Linked DNA regions of Homo sapiens: all the other regions are linked to region 1. Evidence: fine-mapped expression QTL. A gene starts in region 1. Each other region holds a variant in brackets. All regions are shown on one strand. Distances are from middle to middle.

Region 1 (10,160 bases):
CCCACTGTTCCCAGGGTGATCCGATTACATCCCTTTCCTGACGGAATCTCAGGGATGCCCTAAGGCCGTGGAGGGTCTGGCCGCTCCCTCCCTGTGGTTCTGGTCTCTGCTCCTCACTCTGACCTTGCCCATTTGGCTGCAGCCTCACGCGGCCTTCCTGCAAGAGCTCGCTGCTGCCTCGGGGCCTTTGCACGGCTGTTTCCTCTGCCTGCAGGGGCTCGTCCATTAGAGGATCACGTGGCCCTCTCCGTCCAGGCTTCTCAGATGACAGCTGAGCAGACAGCCCTCCCTTTCCATTCAGACTGGCCCCACTGCCCCACACTCTCTGCCCTTTACCTGGTTTATGTTCCTTACAGCACGTTGCACTCCTGGACACGATGCATTTATTTGCATTTTGTCTCCCACCACGAGGTGAGCTCAGGAGGCGGGGGCGGCTTTGCTCCCTGCTGTGTCTGCAGCTCCCATGGGGAGCCCCATCCACAGTGAGCTCCCTGGGAACACTCACTAGATGAATGAATGAAGGGGAGCCCAGGGGACTGGAGTGGTTCATTTATTCGTCATCCTCCTGAGGCCTGGGGAGCTCTCTAACAACCAGATGGCCAAACAGAGGATGAGGAGCAGGAAGGGGACCCGGGAGGAGGCCCATGAGGTCCCAGGACAGCAGGAGAGAGTGAGGTCCCAGCAGGCAGGAGGCAGCGTGCTGGACAAGGAGGGGTCCACCGTGACGATGCTGAGAGCCGGGGGAAGGAGGACAGAGAAGTCCTGCAGGATTAGATCTGGCACCAGGAGGCCTTTGGTGCCGGGGACAGGGGCGGGTTCTCACCCGAGTGTCCATTTCCACCCCGTCCTCAGGCTGTGTGTTCTTCACGGCAGCACCTGCTGGGGTAGAGCAAGGGGTTCATCTCCTGGGAAGGTTCCCTGGGACCTCTCATTCCTGCTGGTCCCTGCCCTGTTCCCATTAGTGCCACTGCAACGCAGGGAGGGGCTGTGATGTCCCCGAGGTCCCACAATGTGGGTTCAGACCACTTCTCCCTGAGTCCCTGACCAATCCTAGCCTGTGCTCCTGCCCCCATTGCTATTGAAATTTTGGGACCCCCAGCTCCACCCCAGGTGCACCTTCTCTGCCTCTCACTCACAGAAGTTTTCTCCCTGGACGTCAGCAGCTGGGCTGGACCTGGGGGAGGATACGGGAGTGTAAGGGGACAGTGAGGTGGCTGTTGGGATGGGTGGGAGTCTGAGGTCTTTGGGCAGAATTACCTCCTCTGTAGGCCCCCGTCCTTGGGCTCTGGCTCGGCAGCCCCTGGAGGACGTTGGAAATCAGCCTGTCTCTGGGCTGGGGGAAGATGGACAGAGTCTCAGCTCTGGGAACGTTAGAACCACCTGCCTTGCACATGCAAGTCAAGAGGAAAGGAAACCTGAAAATACACTTGCAAGGATGTTTTAAATACTTTCTAAGTTTAGAAAAACCGAAAGAATAAAGCACTTCCATTACTCCCTCATTCATTTTCTTCTTTCTAGATTTTCTCACTGGGAATTTCTGGAGCAGAGTTTCTAAGATGACCTCTCCTATCTGGAGTCCCTTTGGCTGGTGCCCTGAGCCCACCCTCCATCAGCCCACGGGTCCCCCAATTTCCTACTTACCCAATGTCCTGTGTTTTCCCTGACGCCAGTGTTGGAGGAGGAGGAAGAGGAGGAGGGAGAGAAGCAGGATGGAGACCACCAAGACCCCGATCAGTACCTCCCAGTGCCTTCTCAGACCTTGGGCGTGATGACATCAGGAATGGGGATGATGTCATTGATGTGCACACCTACTGTGTGTGCACCTACTGTGTGTGCTGGGTCTTTCTTTCATTACCTCCAACCCTCACAGCAGTTGTGCAACCTGAGATTGCCACCCTCTCTCCACCCATTTCACAGATGCACAAACTGAGGCTCAGAGAGGGGAATCGCCTGCCCCAGACCCCTCCAGCCAGGAAGCGGCAGAGCTGGGAAGGAAACCCGGGAGTCTGAGCTGCAGCCCTTGTTCCTGCACCAGAGCCAAGCCCCAGAGTTGCAGGGAAAGAGCCTGACTGTCTTGAACCACCGCCCTGCTCCCCTCCCCTGCCCCAGGTCACCGTCTCTGCTGCAGGTGGGACCGGACAGGCCCCTGCGGAATCGGGTCTGGGAGGTTCCCTGGGAGGCCTCCTCTCCCAGGAGGGCACAGCTGGGAGTCAGAGCTGAAAGGAACTTTCCCACCCGCAGGCCTCTCTCCTTTACACTTGGAGAAACTGAGGCCCATGCAGGGGAGGGGCCTGTCCACATCACCACCTCCAGAGGAGCCTTAACCTAGGACAGAACCCACCCTTGGCTCCCCTAGACCCTGCCCACCTCCCACTCAGAGCCCCTCACTCACCACTGTGGGGGACTGACCCTGTAGGCATGAGGGGCTGGTCCTCAGGGCCTGCTGGGTTAGAACAGGGATGTGAGGGCTGGGGCTGCCCTGCTCCCCACATCAGCTCGGCTTCTCCCCGCAACATCTCCTTCAGCCTTGACCCCCTCACCCCTCACCAGCCCAGCCTCAGGGCCTTGGGAGCCTGTGGTGCCTCCCAAGTCGCTGCCCGACTCCCACACCCGTGGAAGCAAGCCCAGCTGAGAATTGGAACGAGGACTTAGATCCACTGAGCATGTCTTGAGACAGGCCTCGGGCTTTGGAAACTCTCTGGACAGAGGCCTCTGAGACTCACCAGCTGTTGAGACGGACCTTGTGGGTGAGGGCCTGGGACCCTCCAAGGATCCTGGGTAGAAGGACAAGAGGAGGGTGAGAGTCTGGGGTTGCCCTTGGGTCTCCACATCAAATTGAACCTCTCCCTATATCTGCCCTGCAGCTTCCCAAGGACCATTTCTCTGTCCACCTGGCACCTTCTGGACCCTAGGTGAGGGAGAAGAGCATGGGCATGCCTGGGAGGGCCCCTGTTGTCCTCCTCCCCTCTGAGGGCTGAGTCCCCCACTGGCTGAGCCCCTCTCCCTCCATCCCTGCCCAGAGCTCTCCTGGCAGCAGGGCATGAACGGAGCCACTGAGCTCAGAGAGGACAGGGTCAGGAGCCTCACCTGAGACTATGAGCTCCAGGGGGTCACTGGGGTGTGACAGCAGGTAGTGGGAGAAGCCGTGTGAGCTGAAGCACCTGTAGGTCCCCCCGTGCACTGAGGTCACAGGACTCATGGGGAATTCAGCCTGGTGCTGCTGAGCTCCGTGCTCTGATCTCAGATGCAGTAGGGGATGGGCTGCCCGCTCCTTGATCAGAAGAAAAGTGTCCATTGGGCTCCGTGACTGACACAGCAGGGTCACGCTCTTTCCTGAGGTCACAAGAGGACTCGGCAGGGCTGAAAGGGTGGGTTTACTGTAGGCTCCTAGGAGAGAAGGAGGCACCGTGTTAAATGGGGCTCCCACCTCCCACATCATCCCCAGGGCTGGGCTGTGAGAGGGAGATGCCCCTGAGAGCTGACCCCCTTCCTGAGGGCAGAGCCTGGGGCTGGGACCCCTGAGTGTCCTCTCACCTGTCATCACCAGCTCCAGGGGGTCACTGGGCTGTGACCAGCCTACAGGGCTGCGATAGTAACAGCGGTATCTCCCTGCATAGTCCTCTGTCATGGATGGGATGGAGAATCTGGCCTTGTTCTTGGGCTCCAGTGGGTTCTGTCTGTCCCAGGGTGCTGGGCTTTCCTCTTTATCCAGACGGTACTCCCGAGCCTCCAGGGTCCCCTGACACCAGATGGTCACAGAGTTCCCCCAGCTGATCACAGAGCCTGGCTCAGCCCAGAGGGTGGGTTTGGGGAGGGGCCCTGGAAGAAAATCAGAGGCTGGATCCCAAGACCTTCCTCAGCCCTCAGATCCCAGCTCTCAGCCCCAGGACCCCCCCGTCATCCTCATCAGTCACCCAGAACTGCTGTCTCCTCCCCCAGCTGCCCATGGGTGGCCCCTTGTCCCAGTGAGGAGGAGGGACCTGGGACAGCTGGGGACAGACTCACCTGCCTGCATGTGGGTCCTGGGGCCCAGACTCAGCCCTGGAAGAGAGTTCCCTGTGAGGGATTTGCCCCGGAAGCCTGAGCAGGTCCTCTCTTTACCCTGAGATTTTTTTTTTTTTTTTTTTTTGAGACGGAGTCTCGCTGTCACCCAGGCTGGAGTGCGGTGGTGCGATCTTGGCTCACTGCAAGCTCCGCCTCCCGGGTTCACGCCATTCTCCTGCCTCAGCCTCCCGAGTGGCTGGGACCACAGGCGCCTGCAACCACCCCCGGCTAATTTTTTGTATTTTTAGTAGAGACAGGGTTTCACCGTGTTAGCCAGGATGGTCTCGATCTCCTGACCTCGTGATCCGCCCGCCTCGGCCTCCCAAAGTGCTGGGATTACAGGCGTGAGCCACCGCGCCCGGCTACCCTGAGATTTTTGAGTCTCCTAAAGAACCAGGGCCTGGCTGTGAGGCAAATTTCCTCCAAGACTCGGGTCTCCCCTCCCCCTCTTTAAATCTCACCGAGGCAGAGCAGAGCCGTGAAGGTGGGGATCATGGCGTCTCCTCCCAGGGGCCCCAGCTGTGCAGATGGATGAGTCCTCAGTGCCGGCAGGACAAAGAGACACACAGGGTGTGGCCGCTTGGAGGCTGGGTCCTTCTCGTCATGGGGTTGTTCCATCAGCAGCCCACAGGAAGGGAAACTGCCCTCATTTGAACCCCAGCCTGGCTTTCATTTCCCCAGAGCTAGGGCTGAGGCAGGCACCAGGTTCTCTGCAGACATTTCAGACAGAAATGGGGTCTCTCTGATCCCAGCCTGCTGTCTGCCTGGTCTTAATTCCTCTCTTGACCAAACATCAACCCGTATGTATCGTGTGTTTGCAAAGCGCCTGACACTGGGGGTACATCATTGAACAAGTGAAAAAAAAAAAAAACCAAAAACCTGCATTTTCAGGGTACAGATGAACCATAAAGCTTCCTTTTGCTGCCATAACAAATCACCACAAGCTTAGTGGCTTCACATAATGTAGGTTTATTGACTTACCGTCCCGGAGGTCACAAGTCCAAAATGGGTCTCCCTGGGCTAAAATGAAGCTGCTATCAGAGCCGTGTCCTCCTGGAGGCTCCAAGGAGAATCTGTTCCCTCGCCTGTTCAAGCCTCTGCAGGCTCCCGCATTCCTGCCTCTCCATTCCCTCCAACCTCAAAGCCACCAGTCCCGTTATCTGCCCCCTGCTTCCATGCACTCACCTCCTTCTCTCACTCTGACCCTCCTGTCTTCCTCTTTCACTTACTCAGCCCCTTGTGATTACATCAGGCCCACCTGGGTAATCTCCCCAACCCAAGATCCTTGACTTAATCACATCTGCAAAGTCCCTTTTGCCACATAAGCTTCCCCAACTCACAGGGTCTGGGCCTCAGGAGGTGGACATCTCTGGGAGGTCACTATTCTGCCTCCCACAGGCCTTCAGGGACTCCTTTAACCAAATCTCACATAGAGCACTTCTCTGCGATGACGGAGAGTGGCTGGGCACGCCAGTCGAATGCTTGGTGGGCCAGTACGCAGCCAGGTCATGGTCGGCTACTCATGTCCCATGGGACCTGCCCACTTGAGGCCAAACATTCCATCTCCACCAGAGCCCGGTAGACATCTAAAAACTGTGTCGCAAAACAAAACTCATTCTCTGCAGCGCTAGCACGATGTAGCTCCAAAATATATATATATATTTTTTCTTTTCTGAGATGCAGTCTCACTCTGTCGCCCAGGCTAGAGTGCTGTGGTGTGATCTCAGCTCACTGCAACCTCCGCCTCCTGGGTTCAGGAGACTCTCCTGCTTTAGCCTCCTGTGTAGCTGGGATTACAGGCACCCGCCACCACTCACAGCTAATTTTTGTATTTTTAATAGAGATGGGGTTTCACCATGTTGGCCAGGCCGGTCTCGAACTCCTGACCTCTGGTGATCCGCCCATCTCAGCCTCTCAAAGTTGCTGGGGTTACAGGCATGAGCCACCACGCCCAGCCAAGCATAGATTTTAAATGTTTTCACAGATGTTAGTATGCGGAGTGATGGACATGTTAACTGTCTTGATTCCATCATTCCACAGTGTATACATTTATAACACATTGTACCCCATAAATATATATAGTTGGTGAATTAAATATTTAGTAAAATTATTTTGAAAAGGAAAAAAGCCATAAATACATAACAAGCAAGCAAAAAGGCCAGATAGCTTCAACCCTTAGATCACTGCCTGTGTAAAACACTTCAGGTGGCCAGCTCTCAATAATCATCCATTTGAGTGGGCACGTCCTGCAATGATCTGGAATTGTAGTCTGTCCTAGATGGTGACTAACCATTTTCTGTCTCTGTTCTTCTTAAAAGGATGAGAGGACCTTCTAACTTTAGAACTGAAACATAGGGTGGGAGGGGAAAGAGGAAGCAGAAAAAACAAACCCCAAATTAATTGTATCTAACGGTCAGGAAGGCAAAGAAGGAGAGGCTTGCAGGAGGCTGAAAGTCAAAGTGCCGGGAAACGCATGAACACCACTGCCCTCAGGTTTCCAAGCACCTGCTTTTAGTACCTCATTCCGTATCCTTTTGGGTCACTCTCAGAATCACGGGACAGTATCTCATTTCGAGGATTTCCATGTGTCTCTCCACATTTGTGTGTAAGGACCTTATTGGAAGCTATTTCAGCCAAAGCTTGATGCGTCTGACAGTGGCTGGGGAAAAAGAAACTCCCAGAAATGGGGGCTAGAAAGCCATACACATATTGGCGAGTATCTCCTGTTTTGGCGGGAAGTTCTGGATGATGGTCTGCACATTATCAGAGATCCTGGTGTGGACCTGTCCATATTACCTGCTGTAGTGGTGTCCGCAATGCATGCTGATTTCAGGAATTCCTCTCCTTCTCTCTTTCATAAGGGAACCCTATTCCCTTAAACTTGGTTCCCAAATCAGTTACCTGCGCTCATATCCTTGTCTTAAGTCCTGCTTTCAGAGTAACCTGTGCTAGGCAAGGACTGGGAAATGCCAGGAGGTTTTTCGATGTCATCACCCCTTTTCTAACCGCTCAACATGCCTTGCCTTTACCAGTCCTGGACTTCTTGTATTTTGCTTCTTTTTTTTTTTTTTTTTTGTGACAGGGTGACACTCTGTCATCCAGGCTGGAGTGCAGTGGTGCAATCTTGGCTTACTGCAACCTCGGCCTCCTGGGTTCAAACAATTCTCCTAACTCAGCCTCCCGAGTAGCTGAGAGCTGAGATTACAGGCAGCTGCCACCACACCCGGCTAACTTTTGTATTTTTAGTAGAGATGGGGTTTCACCATGTTGGCCAGGCTGGTTTCGAACTCCTGACCTCAGGTGATCTGCCCGCCTTGGCCTCCCAAAGTGCTGGGATTACAGGCGTGAGCCACCGCGCCCGGCCTCATTTTGCTTTTGTATTCGTGCACTCACCACTCAGTAAATCTTATCCATCCTCACTTAAGAAACATTTAAACATGTCAACCTGTGGCCATCCCAGGACACAAGAGATAAAGGCGAGCAAAGCAGATATACTGGATTCACAGTAACCCAGACTTCATTTCAAATTACCTCCCCTCCTAGAAAATCTAGCATCCTAGCAAAAATTAAGTTGATAAAATCACTACGCAAAAAGTTTAGAGATAGGACCAGTCCCGGGAAGGAAAGATTTAACGCAATAGGACAGGATAAAAGAAATACCCACTGGGTCCTGCACTCACCACCTGGGTGCAATAGTTCCATGTAGCAAACCTGAGCATGTATCCTCGTATCTAAAATAAAAGTTGAAGTTCAAAAAATAAAGAAGAAAAACAGAAAGCAATTGAGATGGAGGGTGGTGAAGAAGCTGAAGGAGAGGTCAGATGGTGATGATGAATTGGTATTATCTGAATGAAGGGATGCCTGGAGGTGGAGAGAGAAGCATTGCAGGAGGTCCTGGTCATAGGTATTCAAACGGGTGGATCCTAAAGCCTTACAAGAAGTAAAAAGACCACAAGAGTCGTTCATTCATTTCCAAGTATATTTCACTCTAGAGTCAAGCTTTTGTGAGATACTGAAAACAGGACCTAGTTGGAATGAATCATAAATTTCCATCTTAACTTGGGGTCACGGGTGTTCTGTGATTCATAAGAACCCATGTTTCATTGTTTCGTTTTCTTTTTTTTTATTATTATACTTCAAGTTCTGGGATACATGTGCAGAACGTGCAGGTTTGTTACATAGGTATACACGTGCCATGGTATTTTGCTGCACCCATCAACCTGTTGTCTATATTAGGTATTTCTTCTAATGCTATCCCTCCCCCAGCCCCCCAGCCCGTGACAGGTGCCGGTGTGTGATTTTCCCCTCTTCGTGTCCATGTGTTCTCATTGCTCAACTCCCACCTATGAGTGAGGACACGTGATGTTTGGTTTTCTGTTCTCGTGTTAGTTTGCAGAGAATGATGGTTTTCAGCTTCATCTGTGTCCCTGCAAAGGACATGAACTCATCCTTTTTTGTGGCTGCATAGTATTCCATGGTGTATATGTGCCACATTTTCTTTATCCAGTCTATCATTGATGGGCATTTGGGTTGGCGTATTTGATTTTATCCAGGGTTCTACAGATGCCAAGGAAGGGGTGCAGCTCTACTTAAGTTTACCTCTTGGTCTCTCCTTGGGACCTCCTCTGACTGTGCCATGCCTGAAACACCAACCCCTCTGTCACCACCAGGATCAATTGCAACTGCTCCATGCACATGAGACTACTGCATAGTCTGGGAGCAGTTGGCCTGGGGACAGTGGGATTGGAAGACCATGGAGGGTAGGAGAGCTCGCAGTCCACACAGCAGCCAGAAGGGAGGATATTTCAACATTCTCAAATCAATAGATATGATATCTCATGTCAACAGAAGGAAGAACAAAAAACATATAATCATGGGCAGGCGCGGTGGTTCATGCCTGCAATCCCAGCACTTTGGGAGATTGAGATGGGTGGATCACTTGAGGTCAGGAGATCGAGATCAGCCTGGCCAACATGATGAAACCCCATCTCTCTCAAAAATGCAAAATATTAACTGGGTGTGGTGGTGTGCACCGGTAGTCCAGCTACTCGGGAGGCTGAGACAGGAGAATCTCTTGAACCCAGGAGGTGGAAGTTGCAGTGAGCCAAGATCGCGCCACTGCACTCCTGCCTGGGTGAAGGAGAGACCCTCTGTCTAAAAAAAAAAAAAAAAATTATATGATCATCACAATAGATGTTAAAAAAACATTTGACAAAATTCAACATCCCTTCATCATTAAAACTATCAACAAATTAGGCCTAGAAGAAACACACCTCAACAAAAAATCCCCAGATAATTCCATTAACAAGTATGCAAAGCATCTGAATAGTTGCTTCTCAAAAGAAAATGTACAGATGGCCAACAGCTATATAAAACACTAATCATCGGCCAAGCGCGGTGGCTCACACCTGTAATCCCAGCACTTTGGGAGGCCAAAGCAGGTGGATCACTTGAACCCAGGAGTTTGAGACCAGCCTGGGCAACATGGTGAAACCTCATCTCTACCAAAAATACAAAAAAAGAAAAAAAAACAGCTGGGCGTGGTGGCATACACCTGTAGTCCCATCTACTGAGGAGGCTGAGGCAGGAGGCTCACTTGAACCCAGTAGGCAGAGGTTGCAGTGAGCCAAGATCACACTACTGCACTCCAATCTGGGTGACAGAGCGAGACTTCATCTCAAAACACAAACAAACAAACAAAAACCCACAATCATCACTGGCATCAAATCGAAACTACAATGAGTATCATCTTATTTCAGTTAAAATGTCTATTATCAAAGAAACATATAAAAACATGCTGGGCTGGGCACAGTGGTTCACGCCTGTAATCTCAGCACTTTGGGAGGCCGAGGCAGGCGGATCACGAGGTCAGGAGTTTGAGACCAGCCTGGCCAACATGTTGAAACCCCGTCTCTACTAAAAAGACAAAAATTAGCCGGGCGTGGTGGCGCCCGCCTGTAATCAGGAGGCTCCTGCTACTCGGGAGGCTGAGGGAAGAGAATCGCTTGCACCCAGGAGCTGGAGGTTGCAGTGAGCTGAGATGGCACCACTGCACTCCAGCCTGGGCGACAGAGTGAGACTCCATCTAAACAAACAAACAAATAAATAAATAGATC
Region 2 (10,160 bases), 110 kb after region 1:
GCACTTTGGGAGGCCGAGGCAGGCGGATCACGTGAGGTTGGGAGTTCCAGACCAGCCTGACCAACATGGAGAAACCCCGTTTCTACTAAAATACAAAATTAGCCGGGCGTGGTGGCGCATGCCTGTAATCCCAGCTACCCGGGAGGCTGAGGCAGGAGAATCGCTTGAACCCGGGAGGCGGAGGTTGCAGTGAGCTGAGATCGTGCTGTTACACTCCAGCCTGGGCAACAACAGCAAAACTCCGTCTCTAATAATAATAATAATAATAACAATAACAATAATAATCCTCCATTGATTGAGACTTTTGCCTCGGTCACTCATTCTGGTCGTCAGTTTGATGATGCTCCTGACTCTGCTGTGTCCACGTCCGCAGCTCAGGCTCTACTGAGAGATGCCCGCCCACCCACGTCCTGACTCTGAGGGACAGGGTGCAGGTCTGCGGTGAGGGGACAGCAGAGGGTCCGTGGTCCTGCGTAGGGCCGTCCCGTCCTCCACAGGACCAGAATGTCCTTTAAAAGGCTAAAGCTGCAGGGCGCTACGTCACTAGCACCCAGGATGAGGCGGAGTCAGCCTTGTCTGTCTCTTCCCGCCAGTGGACATCATTTTTCCAGGCAGTCTGGGGGTGTATCCAAGAGTCTTGGCCCTGCCACAGCCCAGGCTGCCTGGCCCTGTGCAGAGAGCGGGTGGGCAGGGTTTTACAGAATCTCAGATGCTGCTCCTGGCTGTCGGAGAGCCCTCAACTCAGCGTTTCCCCAACAACACGGTGACATGGCGGAAGAACCAGGCGCACCTCGTGACCATCTGTGCTATGCCGTCTACACACATGCATGCACACACACACGCACACTCATACAATCTCACACACACTCACATACACACACACAACATGCACACACATACAATCTCACACACTCACATACACACATGCGCACTCACACACAATCTCACACACACACGCACACACACCATGCAAACACTCATACAATCTCACATGCACACACGCACACACAATCTCAGACACACACAACATGCACACACATACAATCTCACACACTCACATACACACACGCACACACAACACACACACACATACATATACTCACACACACTCATACACATACAAATAAACCCACACAGAAACACACTCAAACTCACACACACACACCTACACACACACACACACCTCCCCACATACACACAGATGCATGCAAATGCAACTACAGAGAGAGAAACAAAAACACACAAATTCAAACACGTACAGACAAAAACACACAAATATACACAGACACAAAAATACAAACATGCATACATATACACACCCAAACACATACAAACACACACACACAAGCACACACAGAAACACCCCTACAAACGCACACGCAGCTCTGCACAGAATTTTGGAACTTGTCTGAACCCACTGGGCTCCAACCTGCGATCAGGATGTCCAGGGGGTCCCTGGGGGCCGAGCACTCGGAGGAGAGGTTGTGTGCACCATACGTAGCATCTGTATTGGCCCCCTTGGGAGCGGCTCACAGGGCCCAGGGGGAAGTTGGCCTGGGAGAGCCCAGCCTCGGGCTGCTGGCCAGGGCGCTGGAGGAAGTCACGTGCCCCCTCCTAGTACACAGCGAATCTGTGGTAGCCGACATCAGAGCTGCACTGGAGGGTCAGTCCACGCAGGGTCCTTGGGGGTCAGGAGGGAGGGCTTCCTAGACACACATGGAGGGAACAATGACCTGAAACTGGAGGAGGCGGCTCCTCACAGACACCTCAGACCCTCCTCCGGACTTCCCATCTCATTATCTCTCATGGCTTATGGGAAAATGAGCTATTTTTGAGACCGTTTATGGTATAATGTAGGTTTGCTGAGGATCTCCCCAACAGCTCTGAAAGAATGTATTATATCTTTTTTAGGTCTTCAGAGTCTAAGGTGCTTTTGGGAACATTTGTTGAAAATATTTTTGCTGACGATGTTAAGAACCTGTTGAAAGGTTATTCTTAGGAGAGATACTGGAGAAGTGGGTCTCCATATTCAAATGACCTGGAGAAACCCCAAGAGGATGATTATTCATTAGAGCGGCAAGTATTTAGCATAATGCCGTTGAACCTGACTGTATCTAGAAGACACACACACACACACACATGCACACAAACAACCCTATGCACAACTAGTAAATAGCAAGCTCGGCTTTCATGTGGTTTTACACTTTCATGCAGATACGGAGGTGTTTGTGGAGGGGTCTCTGTGGGTTTCCCGTGAGTACAGAGAAGGAACAGCTGTGTGTGTGTAATGGGCACTGTAATTTCTAAAAATATAACTCACTGTAAGCAAGGTATTTGAGGACACACTGCCATTACAAAATGTTCCCAAATCTGGTGGCTCACGCCTGTGATCCCAGCACTTTGGGAGGCCGAGGCGGGCGGATCATGAGGTCAGGAGATTGAGACCATCTTGGCTAACACGGTGAAACCCCATCTCTACTAAAAAAATACAAAAAATTAGCCGGGCGTGGTGGCGGGCGCCTGTAGTCCCAGCTACTCGGGAGGCTGAGGCGGGAGAATGGTGTGAACCCGGGAGGCGGAGCTTGCAGTAAGCCCAGATCACGCCACTGCACTCCAGCCTGGGCGACAGAGCGAGACTCCGTCTCAAAAAACAAACAAACAAATAAAAAGTTCCCAAATTTGCCTCTGATGATTAAACATTACTGAAGTCCTAGATCTGTGCACACTTCCCTGAAACTTAGCATCACTCAGAGTTGCCAAGAGGCACATCATGTAACCTGGGATGAGTTCACAGCGCATGGTGGGCCTGAGACTAAGCTCAGGTATCTAAGCAGACTCAAATTAGGAACTTCGTCATTCTTGCACCGGAAATTATGGTTTTGTTGCTCAAATATTCTAAGTCAGAGAATGGGAAAGGAAAAAAATGGAGAAATCATGATTTTATATATATATATATATTTTTTTTTTTTTTTTTTTTTTTTTTTTTTTTTGAGACGGAGTCTCGCTCTGTCACCCAGGCTGGAGTGCAGTGGCGTGATCTCGGCTCACTGCAAGCTCTGCCTTCCAGGTTCACGCCATTCTTCTGCCTCGGCCTCCCGGGTTGCTGGGGCTACAGGTGCCCACCACCATGCCCGGCTAATTTTTTTGTATTTTTAGTAGAGACGGGGTTTCACTGTGTTAGCCAGGATGGTCTCAATCTCCTAATCTCATGATCTGCCCACCTTGGCCTCCCAAAGTGCTGGGATTACAGGCGTGAGCCACCACTCCCGGCCATCATCATGATATTTTTAAAAGTTAAAAATATCAACTCGTTTTCTTTTTTAAAAAAAATAATGCAAGCTAGTAAACTACAAAAAGTTCAACATAAAATAAAAGCAACCTTCGTGACTTATATTTACTGAGTTGGTGGATAAGCAAGAATTAGGACCTGGCTCTGGGTAGCTGGGAATGGAGGTGCTGTTCTCAGCGTGCAAATCTACATTGACTGTTTTCAGGAGCTTTCATTGTAGAGACCTAGGGAACAGCTCCTCATAACGGCCGCAGGGATGGTCATTCTGACTTCCCGTTCCACTGCACATCTGTCCTGTGCAGCTGAGAGGCGAGGCTGTGGCTCACTGCAGCATTATTGCACACGAGTGCTGTTCTGCCCCATAGAAGGCTCCAGACTACGCTCCACATTTAGGTCTTTTTCTTTCTATCTACCCTTTTCCAGTCAAAATGTTCATTTTGTGTTTAAGCTGTGGTGGACAGTGAACCCCCTACACACATTCCAGGGACTGGAAGCCTGCACACGGCTCATGTATCCCCTCACTTCGGGGCCTAGGTGCTGGCCGGGGATGTTAATGTTTCTGCCTGTCCAGGTAGCAGTGAGGGAGCCAAGGAGCGGTGCTGCGGGAATTCGCCAAAGCTCAGAATGTAATCATTTCCCAGGAAGCAGAGAGTCTAGGGGGAATGAATCTTCCTGGGGCCCTGAGCGAAGACAGAGGCATCAAAGGGACCCACATCCATGATGAGAGAACGCAGAACAGAAAGATTCCGTCAACAGCCACCCCGTGGGCAAGGCCGTCTTCCCTGGTGTGTTACCGGCTTCTGCTCAGTGAGACAAGTCCTGGTGGTGATAGGAGCTCGGCTGCATCACAGTCCTCCACCTGCGACCTGATGGTCTTGAGTGGCCGCTCCTCAGGGTGGGAAATGCTCTGCATGTCCCTGTGGCAGGGAAGTGCTCGGGTGCACGTTGCCCATGGTCACCTCTGTCGTGCTCTGAATCCCTGACACTCCAGACTGGATCCAGCAGAAGAGACGCTGACAGAGACTCCCTGGATCACAGAGCAGCGTGGTGACCCGAAGCAGAACAGGAGACTCATCTGTCCTCAGAAGTGATTCACCTGCAGCATGCGCCCTAGCCCGCGTCCACAGTCCAGAAACAGAACCAGAGACTCCTCTGCCAGGTGAATGTCCAAGGGGCTGCTCGGGGAAAGGCGCTGAGGCTGTTCCGGGAAACACGTGAGATGCGTGTGCACCCAGATCTCCACGTGTGGCTCTTACGTGATGGGATGGAAGCTGATTGGTGCTGCTGCCCCAAGGTTGTCAGTGCCCTCGACTGGAGGACAAACACCAACCCCGCCATCCCTGGATGGACAGACAGGTATAAAGACGCCGGCTATGCAAGGGTTCTGCAGGGAGCACCTGCAGTTCACGTGGTTCAACAACCCCAGTTGCCCCACAGTTGAGACCAGCCTGGTTGGTATCATGCAGGTGACTAAGCCTTAAAAAATGTTAAGACTGGGCCGGGCTCGGTGGCTCACGCCTGGAATCCCAGCATTTCGGGAGGCCGAGGCGGGTGGATCATAAGGTCAGGTGTTCAAGACCAGCCTGGCCAACATGGTGAAACCCCGTCTCTACTAAAAAAAAAATACAAAAATTAGCCGGGTGTGGTGGCAGGTGCCTGTAATCCCAGATACTCAGGAGGCTGACGCAGGAGAATTGCCTGAACCCAGGGGGTGGAGGTTGCAGTGAGCTGAGATTGGGCCACTGCACTCCAGCCTGGCAACAGAGTAAGACTCTGTCTCAAAAAAAAAAAAAAAAAAAAAAAAAAAAAAAAAGTTAAAATTGAAGCTGGAAGCCATCATTCTCAGCAAACTAACACAGGGACAGAAAACCAAACACCACATGTTCTCACTCATCAGTGGGAGTTGAACAATGAGAACACATGGACACAGGGAAGGGAACAACACACACCAGGGCCTGTCTGGGGGTAGGGGAAGGGGAGGGAGAACATTAGGACAAATACCTAATGCGGGGCTTAAACCTAGATAACAGGTTGATAGGTGCAGCAAACCACCATGGCACATGTATACCTATGTAACAAACCTGCACGTTCTGCACATATATCCCAGAACTTAAAGTAAAATAAGTAAATAAGAGTACAACGTGAGAGTTTTGAGAGAACTATTAACTTTTTGGTTATCTCAAATTTAAACCTGTCAAATGATTGTCAAGAATTTGAAGTATTCAAAAACTAAAAGTAAATACAGTAAAAATAAAATCAAAAGAAAGTATGAAGGAACATGGAAAAATGGACAAACCAGGAGAGTAAGTGCAAACAGGCCGGGCACGGTGGCTCACGCCTGTAATCCCAGCACTTTGGGAGGCCGAGGCGGGCAAATCACGAGGTCAGGAGTTCGAGACCAGCCTGGCCAACAGTGTGAAACCCCATA[T/A]CTACTAAAAATACAAAAATTAGCTGGGCATACTGATACGCACCCATATCACTCATATATGGGATTACATATGAGTAATCCCATAGACTCAGGAGACTGAGGCAGGAGAATCACTTGAACCCAGGAGGTGGAGTTTGCAGTGAGCTGAGATCGCACCATTGCACTCCAGCCTGGGTGACAAGAGCGAAACTCCATCCCCCCGCCCCACAAAAAAAGTGCAAACAATTTTCGTCCCAAATAATTATGAAATTTATAATTTCTCAGGGCACATAATGTTTCTTGATAGAAAGGAAAATGAAGAGTAAAACACTCATGTGTGGAAAGTTGGTTGATTCATTTTTCCACCAGATAAATGTTGAAGCTACACTTAACTATGAAGTGTAGGAACATGGAATACTTGAATTATCTTATCAGGTCACATTTATCATTGGTTGTAAATCACTTTTTAAAATGCTCACTTTTGGCCAGGTGCAGTGGCTCATGCCTGTAATCCCAGCACTTTGGGAGGCCGAGGCAGGCAGATCACAAGGTCAGGAGTTTGAGACCAGCCTGACCAACATGGTGAAACCCTGTCTCTACTAAAAATACAAAAAGTAGCCAGGTGTGGTGGTGGGTGCCTGTAATCTCAGTTACTCCAGAGGCTGAGGCAGGAGAATCGCTTGAACCCGGGAGGTGGAGGCTGCAGTGAGCTGAGCTCATGTCACTGTACTCCAGCCTGGGTGACAGAGAGAGACTCCAGAAAAAAAAAAAATGCTCACTTTCTGTTATTTTTGAGAGGATGGTGTGGAAGCAAAATTAAAATCATTTCTGGCTTGCATAGTTTCCCTTTAGCATCAGTTGACTCTGCGGCATAACCACCCTGTGTGCAGAGGCTCAGAGAGAAGACACGTTTTGGTCTTTCACTTTTACCCTGCTTATCAAAACGAGATTGCTGCAGGACCAACCTAGCTGTAGAATATACAATAGTAAGGGTAGGGCCGTCATGCAAATAGCCAGGCTGGGAGTGTGCCTGCCATTCACCCTCACATCCACTAACCAGCATTTGTCTCTTAGCTCACATATCCCAGACTGTAGAGGAAGCATGATCCTCCCTTTGGCCCAGGGAGACAGAGAAACTACTTCTGGGTAACATCAGAGGATCTCTGATGTTTGCTCCACGCTCTGCTCCCTGGAAGGGTTGGGTGTCCTCATCACTTACCAGACCTGAGTTGCTGATACCTCCTCCTATGGGCAGGATCCTTGGAGGGTTGCATTGAGTCCCAGAGGTTAATCAGACTCAGTCCTGCCTCAAAAATCTCATAGTCCCATCCTGGCCAACATGGTGGAACCCCGTCTCTCCTAAAAATGCAAAAATTAGCGGTGCGTGGTGGCACGCACCTGTAGTCCCAGCTACTCGGGAGGCTGAGGCAAGAGAATCTCTTGAACCTGGGAGGCAGAGATTGCAGTGAGCTGAGGTCACACCACTGCACTCCAGCCTGGCAACGACAACAACAAAAAAAACTCACAGTCCACACATGAAAGACCAGTGGGGATCAGGCCATAAAAACTCAGCCTATTGGGCACAGACACTGTGAGTCAATCAACCTCCTCACTTAGCCTATGAGATAAAGACATGTGTATGAAGGTGGATGTCTGCACTGAGATGCTCAAAAAAGGGAGATAATTACCAGGTGAAGAAACAGCATGTGACAATTCCATGAGCCAGTGACAGCTCGTTGCAGGCAGCAGTTTGTGAATTGCTCTGGGTAGGTGCCAATTCAAGTAGAAAGAAACAGAATAAAGGCTCAGAGGAAGACGTCATCAGAAAGCAGCTTCCAGAGCATGTTCTGTGCGGAGAATGGATGTGTGCTTTCTCTCCATGTGAAACCAGGGGACGAGAAAAGGTACAAATAGGAGGTTGTCATGAGCGTCTGTGTGAAGAGACCACCAAACAGGCTTTGTGTGAGCAACAAGGCTGTTTATTTCACCTGGGTGCAGGTGGGCTGAGTCTGAAAAGAGAGTCAGCAAAGGGTGGTGGGATTATCATAAGTTCTTATAGGTTTGAGATGGGCGTACAAAGTACATTCTCAAGGGCGCGGAGAATATTACAAAGTACCTTCTTAAGGTCGTGGAGGGGGCTGGCGTTGGGGGGAGGATATTACAAAGTACCTTCTTGGCGGGGGGTGGGTGGCAGTGGGGAGAAATATTACAAAGTACCTTCTTTTTTTTTTTTTTTTTTTTTTTTTTTTTGAGACAGAGTCTTGCTCTATCGCCCAGGCTGGAGTGCAGTGGCGCGATCTCAGCTCACTGCAAGCTCTGCCTCCTGGGTTCACGCCATTCTCCTGCCTCAGACTCCCAAGTGGCTGGGACTACAGGCACCCGCCACCATGCCCAGCTAATTGTTTTGTATTTTTTTAGTAGAGACGGGGTTTCACCACATTAGCCAGGATGGTCTCGATCTCCTGACCTCGTGATCCACCCACCTCGGCCCCCCAGAGTGCTGGGATTACAGACATGAGCCACCGCACCCAGCCTCGAAGTACCTTCTTAAGGGGAGGGGAGAATATTACAAAGTACCTTCTAAAGTTGTGGGGGAGAATATTACAAAGTACCTTCTTAAGGGGAGGGGAGAATATTACAAAGTACCTTCTAAAGTTGTGGGGGAGAATATTACAAAGTACCTTCTAAAGTTGGGGAGAATATTACAAAGTACCTTCTAAAGTTGTGGGGGAGAATATTACAAAGTACCTTCTTAAGGCGGGCGAGCGGGGGCAGGGCGGTGGGGGGTAAGGGGGCGAGGAATATTACAAAGTACCTTCTTGGGCGGGGCAGAATATATGGTATCAGTTAGTGGGGCGGGAACAAGTCACAGTGGTGGAATGTCATCAGTTAAGGCTATTTTCACTTCTTTTGTGAATCTTCAGTTGCTTCAGGCCATCTGGATGTGTACGTGCAGGTCACAGGGGATAGGATGGCTTAGCTTGGGCTCAGAGGCCTGACAGAGGTGACCTTCTCAAAGTTTGGGAGAAAATCTCTATGGCAGAAATTTGCATGAGGATAAGAGGTGATAAGACACTCCACAAGAGAACTCTGCTTGTTCCCCGCATTTCGTAAGATAAAGACATGTCACCATTGATGTGAAATATTATCGTTTTGTTACATTAGGTCTCTTCCAGGAGCCTGCACTGCATGAGAAAATAGGCTCTGCATCTTCAAATTTGCACCTTTAATCTAGAACAGCTAGAACTTCCTCTGACAAGGAAAACATTTTGTGTTCATGCTATTCTCTCCCACAGCCAGCAGCCACACGTGGCTCTGAGAACTCAAATTGTGGCCATGTGGCTGAGGAACTGAATTTTAAACTTCATGGAATTTGATCTATTCTAATTCTAAGTTAAAAAGCCATATTTGGCTAGTGGCTACCATATTAGATGACTCAGATATAGAATACACTTCATCTCTGCAAAATTTTGTTGAGTAACAGCAAAGACGTGGAATCAACCCAAATGCCCATCAATGATAGACTGGATAAAAATAAAGTTGTACATATACACCACGGAATACTACGCAGTCATAAAAAGGAATGAGATCATATCATTTGCAGAGACATGAATGAAGCTAGAAGACATTATCCTCAGCAAACTAATGCAGGAACAGAAAACCAGACACCGCATGTTTTCACTTATAAGTGGGAGCTGAACAATGAGAACACATGGACACAGGGAGGGGAACACATTCACTGGGGCCTGTCAGAGGAGGGCAGGGGGTATGGAGAGCATTAGGGAAGAGAGCTAATGCCTGCTGGGCTTAATACCTAGGTGACGGTTTGATAGGTGCAGCAAACCACCATGGCACACGTTTACCTACGTAACAAACCTGCACATCCTGAGCATGTACCCCAGAACTTTAAAAAAATTTTTTTAAAAAAACCTTATTGAGTAATTTAGAGATTAAACTGGCTGAGCATATACATCGGCTTTCCAGAAGCATGTCTGTAGAGTTTCAGGATAACTCAGATGATATTAATGAGATATCCAGGATGAGTGTGTGGGTAGAGTCAAATCACCTTAAATGGTTGGATGCTCAAAATAGAATTGTAGAATGGCTAGTTGTCTGTTCAGCAGTGCTGGAATTTTAAGATAATCCCACAAGCATTCAGACACTGCTGTTGCCAGCTTCGAGGTGTCAAGATGGTACCAGAAGGAGGAAGAATGTCCGTGGAAAAAAAATCCTCCTAGGAATAGATCCAGGTCCTTGCGTATTAATGCCCTTTGTGCCAAAGACTGGGGGCAGCTCTGGCCTCAGCCTGGGCTTGGTGGACAGTGATGTAGATACTAGGATCCTCCGAGAGGTAGTGGGGACACTGGGAGGCAGGAGGGAATCCTGTCTGTGAGAGGGCCTGGTGGTTTAACTGGGCATATATGATCTCCTGTGTCTCTTCTGCTGCAGGCTCCTGAGAGGATG
Region 3 (10,160 bases), 54 kb after region 1:
GGGTTCTAAGATCCATGAAGGTGTCAGTTTGAGTGATACACATTTTTTTTTTTTTGAGACAGAGTCTAACACTGTCGCCCAGGCTGGGAGTGCAGTAGGGCAGTCTCAGCTCACTGTGACCTCCTACGTCCCAGGTTCAAGCGATTCTCCTGCCTCAGCCTCCCGAGTAGCTGGGATTACAGGTGCTTGCCACCATGCCCAGCTAATTTTTGTATTTTTAGTAGAAACGGGGTTTCATCATGTTGGCCAGGCTGGACTCAAACTCCAGACTTCAGATAATCTGCCGGCCTCTGCCTCCCAAAGTGCTGGGATTACAGGCGTGAGCCACTGCACCCTGCCTTGAGTGATATACTTTTTTATCTGCAACAACAGACTCTTAGAGATCATCACAGGTAGCTGGAGAAAAATGTAAGACCAGACCATTTGTAATTTCCCTTGGTCCAGACAATTGTTGGTCCTATGAGAAACTGAATCTGGTACTTTCTCAATGTGAACTAGGAATAGTTTCACTTCATAGGAAATTGCAACCTACTTATTTTAGAAAACTGAGTGATATTAGAGTATCACATCCTGTTTGTACTTCTCCATGGGGTGTAGAAAAAAAGACAAAAAGGGTTTTGTGTGATACTTGGGAGATGTGAGCTTTTATAAAGACAAATATATATATACACATATATATACACATGTATAGTTACTATTATAAGTATCTGGCATGAGAAAAGAGACAGGGAACCAAGATTCTTCTTTATAACACCTTTTTCTGACCAAGAATCGAACAGAAACACATACTTCTTCTCCTCAGACACCAAGACTCAGGGCTGTCTCCTTGCTCTCAGGCCAGTAAGGAGTCTCCACTTTCCACCTGTAGTTCTTACAGATGAAGCCCAGTTGTCCCTACATGCCTATATATACAATCACATTTATAGGTGTTTTAAATTTCAAAATCTCTAAAACGTGGGCCTCTTCCATTTTGTACTTGAGTTTATATTGCTAAGATGCATGCCTATTAATTTTTAGTTCCATATTATTATTATTGTTTTCAACTTTTATTTTAGAATGCGGGGGCACATAACGCATGTTTGCTAGAAAGGTATATTGCGTGATGCTGAGGTTTGGAGAACGAATGAATCCGTAGACCCAGGTAGTGAGCATAGCGCCCAACAGGCACTTTTTCAGCCCTTGCCCTCCTCCCTCTCTCCCCACTCTAAGTGTCTCCGGTGCCAGGGCCAGACTCTGTCTCAAAGAAAAAAAAAATCACAGGAAACATCCTGTTGTTATAGGCATTGACAAAGCGTTTACAGCTAAGTCCTTGAACGCAATTAAACAAAAATAACAACTGATGAGTGGGACCTCATTAACCTACAGATCCAGTGAAGGCCTAATATTCAGAATCTAGAAGCAACTTACACAAATCAGCAAGCAACAAACAAACAGCCCCATTAGAAAGTGTGCAAAGGACATGAACAGACACTTATCTATGTCCACATGTGCCCAGTGTTTAGCTCCTGCTTACAAGAATGTGCTATGTTTGGCTTTCTGTTTCCACATGGCATCACTTAGGCTAATGACCTCTAGCTCCATCCATGCTGCTGCAAAGGACATGATTTCCATTTTGATTGCTGTGTAGTATTCTATGGTCCATATATCCAATCCATTGTTGGATGAACACCTGGGTTTATTCCACATCTTTGTTATTGGGAATGGTGCTGCAATGAACATATAGGTGCATCTGCCTTTTTGGTAGAATAATTTATTTTCCTTTGGGCATATACCTACCAATGGGTTTGCTAGGCCGAATTGTAGTTCAACTCTTAGTTCTTTGAGAAATCTCCCAACTGCTGTCCACAGTGGATGAACTAATTTACGTTCTCACCAACACTTGTTCCATTTTCTTTGCAGCCTTACCAGCATCTGTTATTTTTTGACTTTTTAATAATAACTATTCTGAGTGGTGTGGGTATCTCATTGTAGTTTTAATTTGCATATCCCTACTGATTAGTCATATTGAAGATTTTTTGATATGCTTCTTGGACATATGTGTGTCTTCTTTAGAAAAGTGTCTGTTCACGTCTTTTGCCCACTTTTTAATGGGGCTGTTTGTTTTGTGCTTGTTGATTTGTGTAAGTTGCTTACAGATTCTGAATATTAGACCTTTGCTGGATCTGTAGGTTTATTAGGTCCCACTCATCAATTTTTGCTTTCGTTTAATTGCTTTTGAGGACTTAGCTGTAAATACTTTGCCAATGCCTGTATTAAGGAAGATGTTTCCTATTTTTTTTTCTTTGAGATGGAGCCTGGCTCTGCTGCCGAGGCTGGAGTGCAGTGGTGTGATCTCGGCTCACTGCAACCTTTCCCCACCAGGTTCAAGCGATTCTCCTGCCTCAGCTTCCCAAGTAGCTGGGATTACAGGCACCTGTCACCATGCCAGGCTACTTTTTTTTCTTTTTTGTATTTTTATTAGAGACAGGGTTTCACCATGTTTTCTTCTAGGATTCTTATAGGTTTAAATCTTACATTAAAGTATTTAATCTGTCTTGATTTAATTTTTGTATATGGTGATATGTAGGGTCTGTCCAGTTTCATTCTTTTGCATATGGCTAGCCAGTTATCACAGGATTATTTTTTGAATAGGCCTGTTTTTGTTGGCCTTGTTAAATATCAGATGGTTGTAGGTGTGTGGCTTTATTCTGTTTCATTGGTCTATGTGTCTGTTTTTGTACCAGTGCCATAATGTTTTGGTTACTGTAGCCTTGTATTACAGTTTTTTTAAAAATGTATTTTATTTCAATAGCTTTTGGGGTACAAGTGGTTTCTAGTTGTATGAATGAATTGTATAGTGGTGAAGCCTGAGATTTTACTACACCCATCACCCAAGTAGTGTACATTGTACTTGGTACATAGTATTTCATTACTCACTCTCCACCCCCTCTCTCCCTTCTGGGTCTCCAGTGTTCATTACACCCCTTTACATGTCTTTGATTACCCATAACTTGGCTCCCACTTATAAAGTGAGAGCATATGGTATTTGGCTTTCCATTGCTGAGTTAGTTCACTTAGTGTCATGGCCCCCAGCTTCATCCAAGTTGCTGCAAAAGACATTATTTCATTTTGTTCAATGGCTGAATAGTGTTTTCTTGTGTATATGTGCCACATTCACTCATCAGCTGATGGACACTTACGTCGATTCCACATCTTTGCAATTATGAATTTTGCTGCAATCAACATTTGTATGCAAGTGTGTTTCTGATGTAATGATGTCTTTTCCTCTGGGATGTACACATTTGTTGACTGCAGTGGGATGCTAGTGGGTGCAGGGGTGCTGGCCTCCATGTCGGTGTTCAATGCGGTGGCGTCAGCAAGACTGGGTGGGGTGCGCGGGAGCCCCGCAGGCGTTCGTGTGCGCATTTGCACCGGTAGTGGTGTTAGCAAGGTGGCGGGGCTCCGGCCTCATGGGACTGTGTGCACCCTCTGTGTGCACTTCCACGCTGGCGGCTGCTGCTGTTTGCGGTGGGGGTGGATCCGCTGGTCTCCCTGTGTGTGATCACACCGGTGGTAGTGTTGGCGCCGGGAGGGTGGAGGACAGATGGGTACTGGACAGGGAATCTCTGTACCCACGAATGCTCTGACAGCAGTCCCAGTGCTCGGGGGTCGTTGGGTGAGTGGGTGAACTCACACCGGCAGCTGTGGCACTGCGAGGTGCACGTGCAACACACATGCCGTTGGGGAGGGGAGAGAAGGTCTGCTCAGGAGCACATAATGCTGGCAAAGCCCTGGCGGCAGTGGCTGTGGGCGAGCGAGTGCAAGCAAAGTGGCTCGGGGACACTGAGGTGGGGCGAGGGAGTGGGGCGGGCTGGTGAAGTTTGCAGGAGTGAGATACACTATGTGAGATTTCCTCGGTTATAAATAGCCTTGGGGTTTTGGCTTTCTCAAACACCAGCTTTGGTAATGAACCGGCCATGTGAACAGACTCAGGACCTCTTGGTTATCCAGGGGGTTGCTGGCAATGGTGATAGCTGAGGACATGCACACGTGTTCTCCTTCCTGGGTGCTGTGTTATTGAGCCTGCGGATGCTGTCCTGCACGGTGTCAGTCGGCCTCCAGCCCGGAGGCAGCGGTTGCAAAAGCGCTCCACATCTTTGCAATTATGAATTTTGCTGTGTTGGTCTTCATGGGCTTTTTGCCTTCCTTATGTTACGCAAGGGAGGCTGTCCGGTGTCTCAGGCAAAGGGCGAGGCCATTGAGCTCCCGAAAGTCTTTGTCCTTTGTGTTAACCTACCAGGGTGGGGGTATGGGCAGAGGCAGGTGCGGGCTGGGTCAGCCTAGTCCGTGCTCTCGCTTTCCAGGTGCTAAGTGGGTTCAAGCGAACCCTCCCCAGTAGCTGGAATTACAGGCGCACACCACACGCCAGGTTAATTTTTGTATTTTCAGTAGAGACGGGTTATTGTCATGTTGGCCAGGCTGCTTTTGAACTTCTGACCTCAAGTGATCTGCCTGCCTCGGCCTCCCAAAGTACTGGGACTACAGGTGTGAGCCACTGTGCCTGGCCGAAGATGGAACTCTTATTTCCAATATTGGAACTGTCAAATAGGACCTTTATTAGTGGAATTCTAGGAGAGAAGGAGGCACCGTGTTAAATGGGGCTCACACCTCCCACATCATCCCCCAGGCCTGGGCTCTGAGAGGCAAGATGCCCCGAAGAGCAAACCTCCTTCCTGAGGGCAGAGCCTGGGGCTGGGGCCCCTGAGTGTCCCCTCACTGTTACCACCAGCTGCAGGGGGTCTCTGAGTGCTCACCTGCCAGCAGGACTGAAATACTCACAGCAATATTCCCCTGCATGGTGCTTTGTCCTGAGTGAGACGGAGGACTCACGCTGTCCTGGGCTTCGGCGAGCTCTGTGTGCTCCTGAACACTGGGCTTTCCTCTTTATCCAGACCACACTCCTGAGC[C/T]TCTAGGGTCTCCTGACACCAGAGGGCCACGGGCCTCCCCTAGGTTATTACAGAGTCTGGTTCAGCCCTGAACGTGGGTTTGGGGAGGGTCCCTGGAAGGAAATCAGAAACTGGGTCCTATATCATTTACCACCCCTCAGATCCCAGCTTTCAGCCCAAGATCCCCCCATGATCCCTCTCAGTCAGCCCAGAGTTGCTGTTCTCCAGCCCCAGCTGCCCGGGGGTGGGACCCTGTCCCCGGTGAGGAGGAGGGACCTGGGACAGCTGGGGACAGACTCACCTGCCTGCACGCAGGTCCTGAGGCCCAGACTCAGCCCTGGAAGAGAGTTCCCGCTGAGAGATTTGCCCCTGAAGCCTGGGCAGGTCCTCTCCTTCCTGAGATCTTCCCTAATCCCCTGGGGTCTCCTACTGGACCAGGGCCTACCTGTGGGGCAGGGTCCCTCTCATGCTAGAATCTCCCATTCCCCTTGTCAAATCTCAGTGAAGTGGACCATGGCCGTGTGGGTGAGAGTCATGATGTTTCCTCCTACTGGCCCCGGCTGTGTGGGTGGATAAGACCATGGTGTCCACAGAACACACACAAAGGAAGGGTTCTCTCCCTTACAGGATTTTCCCACCAGCATCTCCATGGGTAGTGTACTGTCCCGGACCCCGCCACGAGCCTGGCTCTTGTTTTCCTAGTGCTTGGCCTGAGACAGGTACCAGGCTTTCTGTTGATATTTCAGACACACATGGGGTCTCTCCTCATCTCCTTTCACTGTCTGCCTGTCCTGTCCTCTTCTCATTAAGGGCCAGGACGTGGCTGCAAATGGACGTGGTGCCTTCCTGAGTTGATCCCTTCCAGGTGAAGGCAACGGAGGGTTCTTCCTTCCTCTCAGAGCCTCCTCATGGGGTTTCACTCTCTCCTTCAGCTCACCCATAAACACACTCTTGTGGGGAAACTACCATGGCCAGTCTTCTCACCAGTCCTGGGGAAGCTTCAGGGAAGATGCAAATTCAGGCTGCGGGGCAGACTCACATCAGCAGAGACTCATCTCACATCTTGCTCTGCAGTTCCAGTTGAGCTTTATTGCGGCAATGAACAGAAAGGGGAAATACAGGGAGACAAGGGAAGGAATCATGACTCTTTCCCCAGAACTGGAGTGTGGGTTTTCTTTATGCAAAAACGTTCCCTTCACGAACTTCTCATTGACTCATCGCAACAGCATCCGCCCCCGTCTCCCTGGAAACAACATTGACCTGACTCTGCCTTCTTGGTGCCCCCGTCTTCTTTCAAACACTCCTGTTCCCATCCTGTGCTCCTGAGTTCAAGGTTCTGGGACAATACGTGGGGTTAGCACTCTGCTTTGAGGGGAAATCTTGTCTTTATTTAAATATTCTTGTGTCACCCCCTGCCTGTGTGAACTTGGGCAGTAACCTCCCATCTCTGAGCCTTGGTTTCCTCATTTGGAGCCTGTCATGAACCCCATTTATCACAGGGGAGCTGGGTCATTGGAGCCTGGGGGCTGCAGGGGGCTCAGCCATGGGTAATTTCCAGAGCAGGTGAAGACAGGAGGGGTGGGGGCATGAGGGGATGCTGGCGCCCACCATCAAGGCCTGAGATTGATGTTTCCACTAAGGAGAGCCCCTTTGTTCCTGCCCTTGAGAGATGCTTCTCATAATATTTCATCAACACCCCGGTTATCACAGTCATGTCCAGAAAATGAGAAATGAAAGTTCATCAGAAGGAGAAGGATACACACGAAACAGAGAGGGCATCTGTGTCTGGTGCCATTAGGGGTCATTAGGGAGGAAGTTTCCATTTCTGTGCAGAACAGAAAAGGGGCCCTGGGTCCTCACAGGCAGAGAAGGGCCAGGGCTCTGGGCAAGGCTGAAAGCTGTGATGGAATATGTCTATTTACCGACCCAGGCCCATGGCCACCACTGAGCCAACTCCCCTGGGTGTGTGTGAAACAAATTCATTCACTGCAGAGTTCTTACATGTGGGTATCTGTATCATGTGTGGGTATGAGTTTTTTTTTTTTTTTTGAGATGGAGTTTTGCTCTTGTTGCCCAGGCTAGAGTGCAGTGGCATGATCTCCACTCACTGTAACCTCCACCTCCCAAGTGATTCTCCTGCCTGATTCTCATGACCAAGTGATTCTCCTGCTTCAGCCTTCTGAGTAGCTGTGATTACAGGTGCCCACTACCAGGCCTGGCTAATTTTTTTGCATTTTTAGTAGAGACGGGGTTTTGTCATGTTGGCCAGGCTGGTCTTGAACTCCTGGCCTCAAGTGGTCTGCCCACTTCGACCTCCCAAAGTGCTGAGATTACAAGCATAAGCCACCGTGCCCGGCCATGAGTGTGAATTTCACATGCATTTTTTTCCTTCTGGGAGCAACCTGAGCAGACACTATGTTTGGGAAATGAATGCCACGTGTCATCAGTAGCTGGAACAGTCCCCCATTTTCAGTCCTGGATTACTAAAAACTGCCTTGAGAGGATCCCTCCATGGTAGCTCAGGAGTGTAGGAGGTGAGTGTCCAACAAAAATAGACAACCAAGAGCCATCCTTCTAATGATAAAAAGTGCTATGATCATCAGTCTACACATTTGTTGATAAGGATTATTATGTGCAAAGAAATAGAATACTAGGAACGCATAAGACCCTTTTTCAATTAAACATGTTTAAATATCTGAAAAAAATACAAGAGGAAATTAAATTTCTGAGACAAGAATATGGATTATACTGGCAAAAAATGAGCATCAGAGAAATGAGTTAGAAATCCTAGAGGCAAAAATTCAGTTGAAGAAGCACACTCAAAATATTTATTCTATCAAGGTCAAGATACAGCTAAAGAGACATTTATTAAATTGGAAAACAAAATTGGGAGAATTTTCCAGAATGCACTATGGAGACACCAAAAGTGAAAATTCACCATATTTGGGGGAATATTGTGAGGAGGGAGAACCTCATATCTATTGTACGTGTCAGAAGGAAAGAAGGGAGAATAATGTCTGGCAACAGCTCACGAATTAAAGAGTTGAACATTTGACAGAGACGAGGAAAGACTAATTAAGTGCTAAGATGCATACATTTAAACATGCAATGTAAACCTTGACCTACCATGATAAATTGAAAAATACCAGAAGTAGATTAAAAAGTATATATGCTAGACTGAAATTGTCTAGCATAAATTGTATAGTTTAAAACACATTTTTGTGTCCTGTGATTTTCAACTCAACATGTCAGTAGAATAGCATGATCACTGGGATCGGACTTCCCAACAGAAAAATGAAAGGCAAGGAAATGTTGAAAATGTACTCTCAAGGGATTAACAGCAAGTGAGGAACTCTATGCTTACTCAGGTTAATACCTAAAAGTTAAAGGGGTCAGCAGGGGACCAATTCCTAAGCAGAAAAAGGCTCAGAGCAAGACAGACCTGTGAAGCCCATTAGGTTGGGCTTCCCCTGCATGAGGGCTGAGGAGGGATTGGAGGGTGGATCCCTCAATCATCAGATGTGCTTTCTCTTCCAGGTGTTATATCTTACCCTTTAATTAATATAGAAATGTTTTCATCTATTTTGATAGAGAAAGTGGGAGGAAAAATAAAGCATTATCTGAGCTGCAAGTTACTAGATATTACTGTTTTCATACTCAGTGAAAGCAATTTTAAATGATGTTATCCAGATAGATCAATGAATCCAAAATGTAGGATGTGAGATGCCGGTGATGAAAAGTGGGAAACAGGCAAGTATTTGAAAATTGCATGCACGCACACACACGAATGTAACTACACACACATATAAGAGTACATGTCTTTTCTAAAGGACAAGGATAAATGAATCTTCATTCAAAAATATATAATCGAATACTTAACTAAATTCATGAAATTATTCTAAATTATTCATTTTTTACCCCGTATGTTAAAGAGTGATTCCCCTACTCAGGATGAGTTAAATAGCCCAACACCCCCAATAACACATTAGGCATGAGACACAATAGTATCATCTAATATAAAATCATAATTTAAAATCAGTAAGGGAAGAAAGACATGCTGTTAAAATTATCTATTAGAAACATTAATAGTCCACAAAATGTAACATAATACAAAACTTTTTTGAAAATAGTGAAGTTTTATGTTTTAATGAAGGTATTAAGTGCTGGGTACGGTGGCTCACACCTGTAACCCAGCACTTTGGGAGACTGAGGTGGGAAGATCACTTGAGCCCAGGAGTTCAAGACCAGCCTGGGCAACATAGTGAGACTCATCTGTGTTAAAAAAAAAAAAAAGAGAGAGAGACGGTATAAAAAATGATAAAATAATTGTAAACTTTCATTCATCTAACCATGGGTTATTGAAATATATACAACATAAATTTGTATATATTTGGTGATTCAAAGAAATATTTATCAAGAACTGAGAGGTTAAGAAAAAAAATGAATGAGTATACAACTTAATGTTCAATCTGAATTACATACATATGGTAAAACTCTCTAGTTACATATGTTATAGGGTTTGTATATAGAAAAACAAATTCTATGTATGTATACATATATATGTTAATTTGTGTATATATTTACCTATTATGTACATAAGCACTATATGTATACACACACGGTATATATGTGTGTAGATGTGTAAAGAAATGTTACACAGTTTGTATGGAAAAAGAATTCACATATATATTCTGATATATTGTATACATACACTTACTCTAGGTGTTATGTGTGTATATATTTACATATTGCATACAAATACATTATATGTGGATATATAGTATGTGTAGATGCCACTGTACAGTATATATGTGTGTGTGAGTATATATATGTGTGTATATTAATGAACACATACCTCAAAGGGGGGAATGCCCATATTTATGACATACATTGCACGTAAAATGTTAAGTATTTACTGGACAAGGAAGGAAAAATCTCCAAATTTTTCTAAATGACTATCTTATACATTTTATTCCCAGACATGATTGTTATTTAGTTTGAAGTTAACAATAAAAAGATATTATGAGAAAACCTCAATATTGCTCAAAATTAATAAAATCCTCAGTCATTTTGTACGATATATATTTGAATTCATGATGTACTAAGAAATATTTTGCTAGATGGGTGTTTGTATTTTATATTGTTTGGATAATTATTTTACTTTTTAAGGCATATGAAGAATTCCATTTCCATTTTATGAAATAGGAGTCCTGAGGAGATTGCCATGGATCCAGC

Evidence for each region. PIP is the estimated chance that this variant, and not a neighbour inherited with it, causes the effect.
Region 2: its variant is fine-mapped to the expression of LILRB4 in whole blood (INTERVAL, PIP above 0.99).
Region 3: its variant is fine-mapped to the expression of LILRB4 in whole blood (TOPMed, PIP 0.97).

What each region holds. Positions count from the first base shown.
Region 1 is chr19:54,657,413-54,667,572 of GRCh38, reverse strand. It overlaps LILRB4 (leukocyte immunoglobulin like receptor B4), which reads right to left and starts at 4,588. Exons shown (of 12, transcript NM_001278426.4): 1 at 4,506-4,588; 2 at 4,006-4,041; 3 at 3,535-3,819; 4 at 3,088-3,387; 5 at 2,724-2,774; 6 at 2,393-2,443; 7 at 1,642-1,758; 8 at 1,258-1,333; 9 at 1,137-1,174; 10 at 824-876. The coding sequence starts at 4,539.
Region 2 is chr19:54,543,526-54,553,685 of GRCh38, reverse strand. It overlaps the pseudogene KIR3DX1. Among named protein-coding and RNA genes, the nearest start is that of LILRA2, 25 kb to the left of the region's middle. The variant T/A (reference allele first, on the strand shown) is at 5,718.
Region 3 is chr19:54,602,972-54,613,131 of GRCh38, reverse strand. No RefSeq gene overlaps it. Among named protein-coding and RNA genes, the nearest start is that of LILRA1, 14 kb to the right of the region's middle. The variant C/T (reference allele first, on the strand shown) is at 4,947.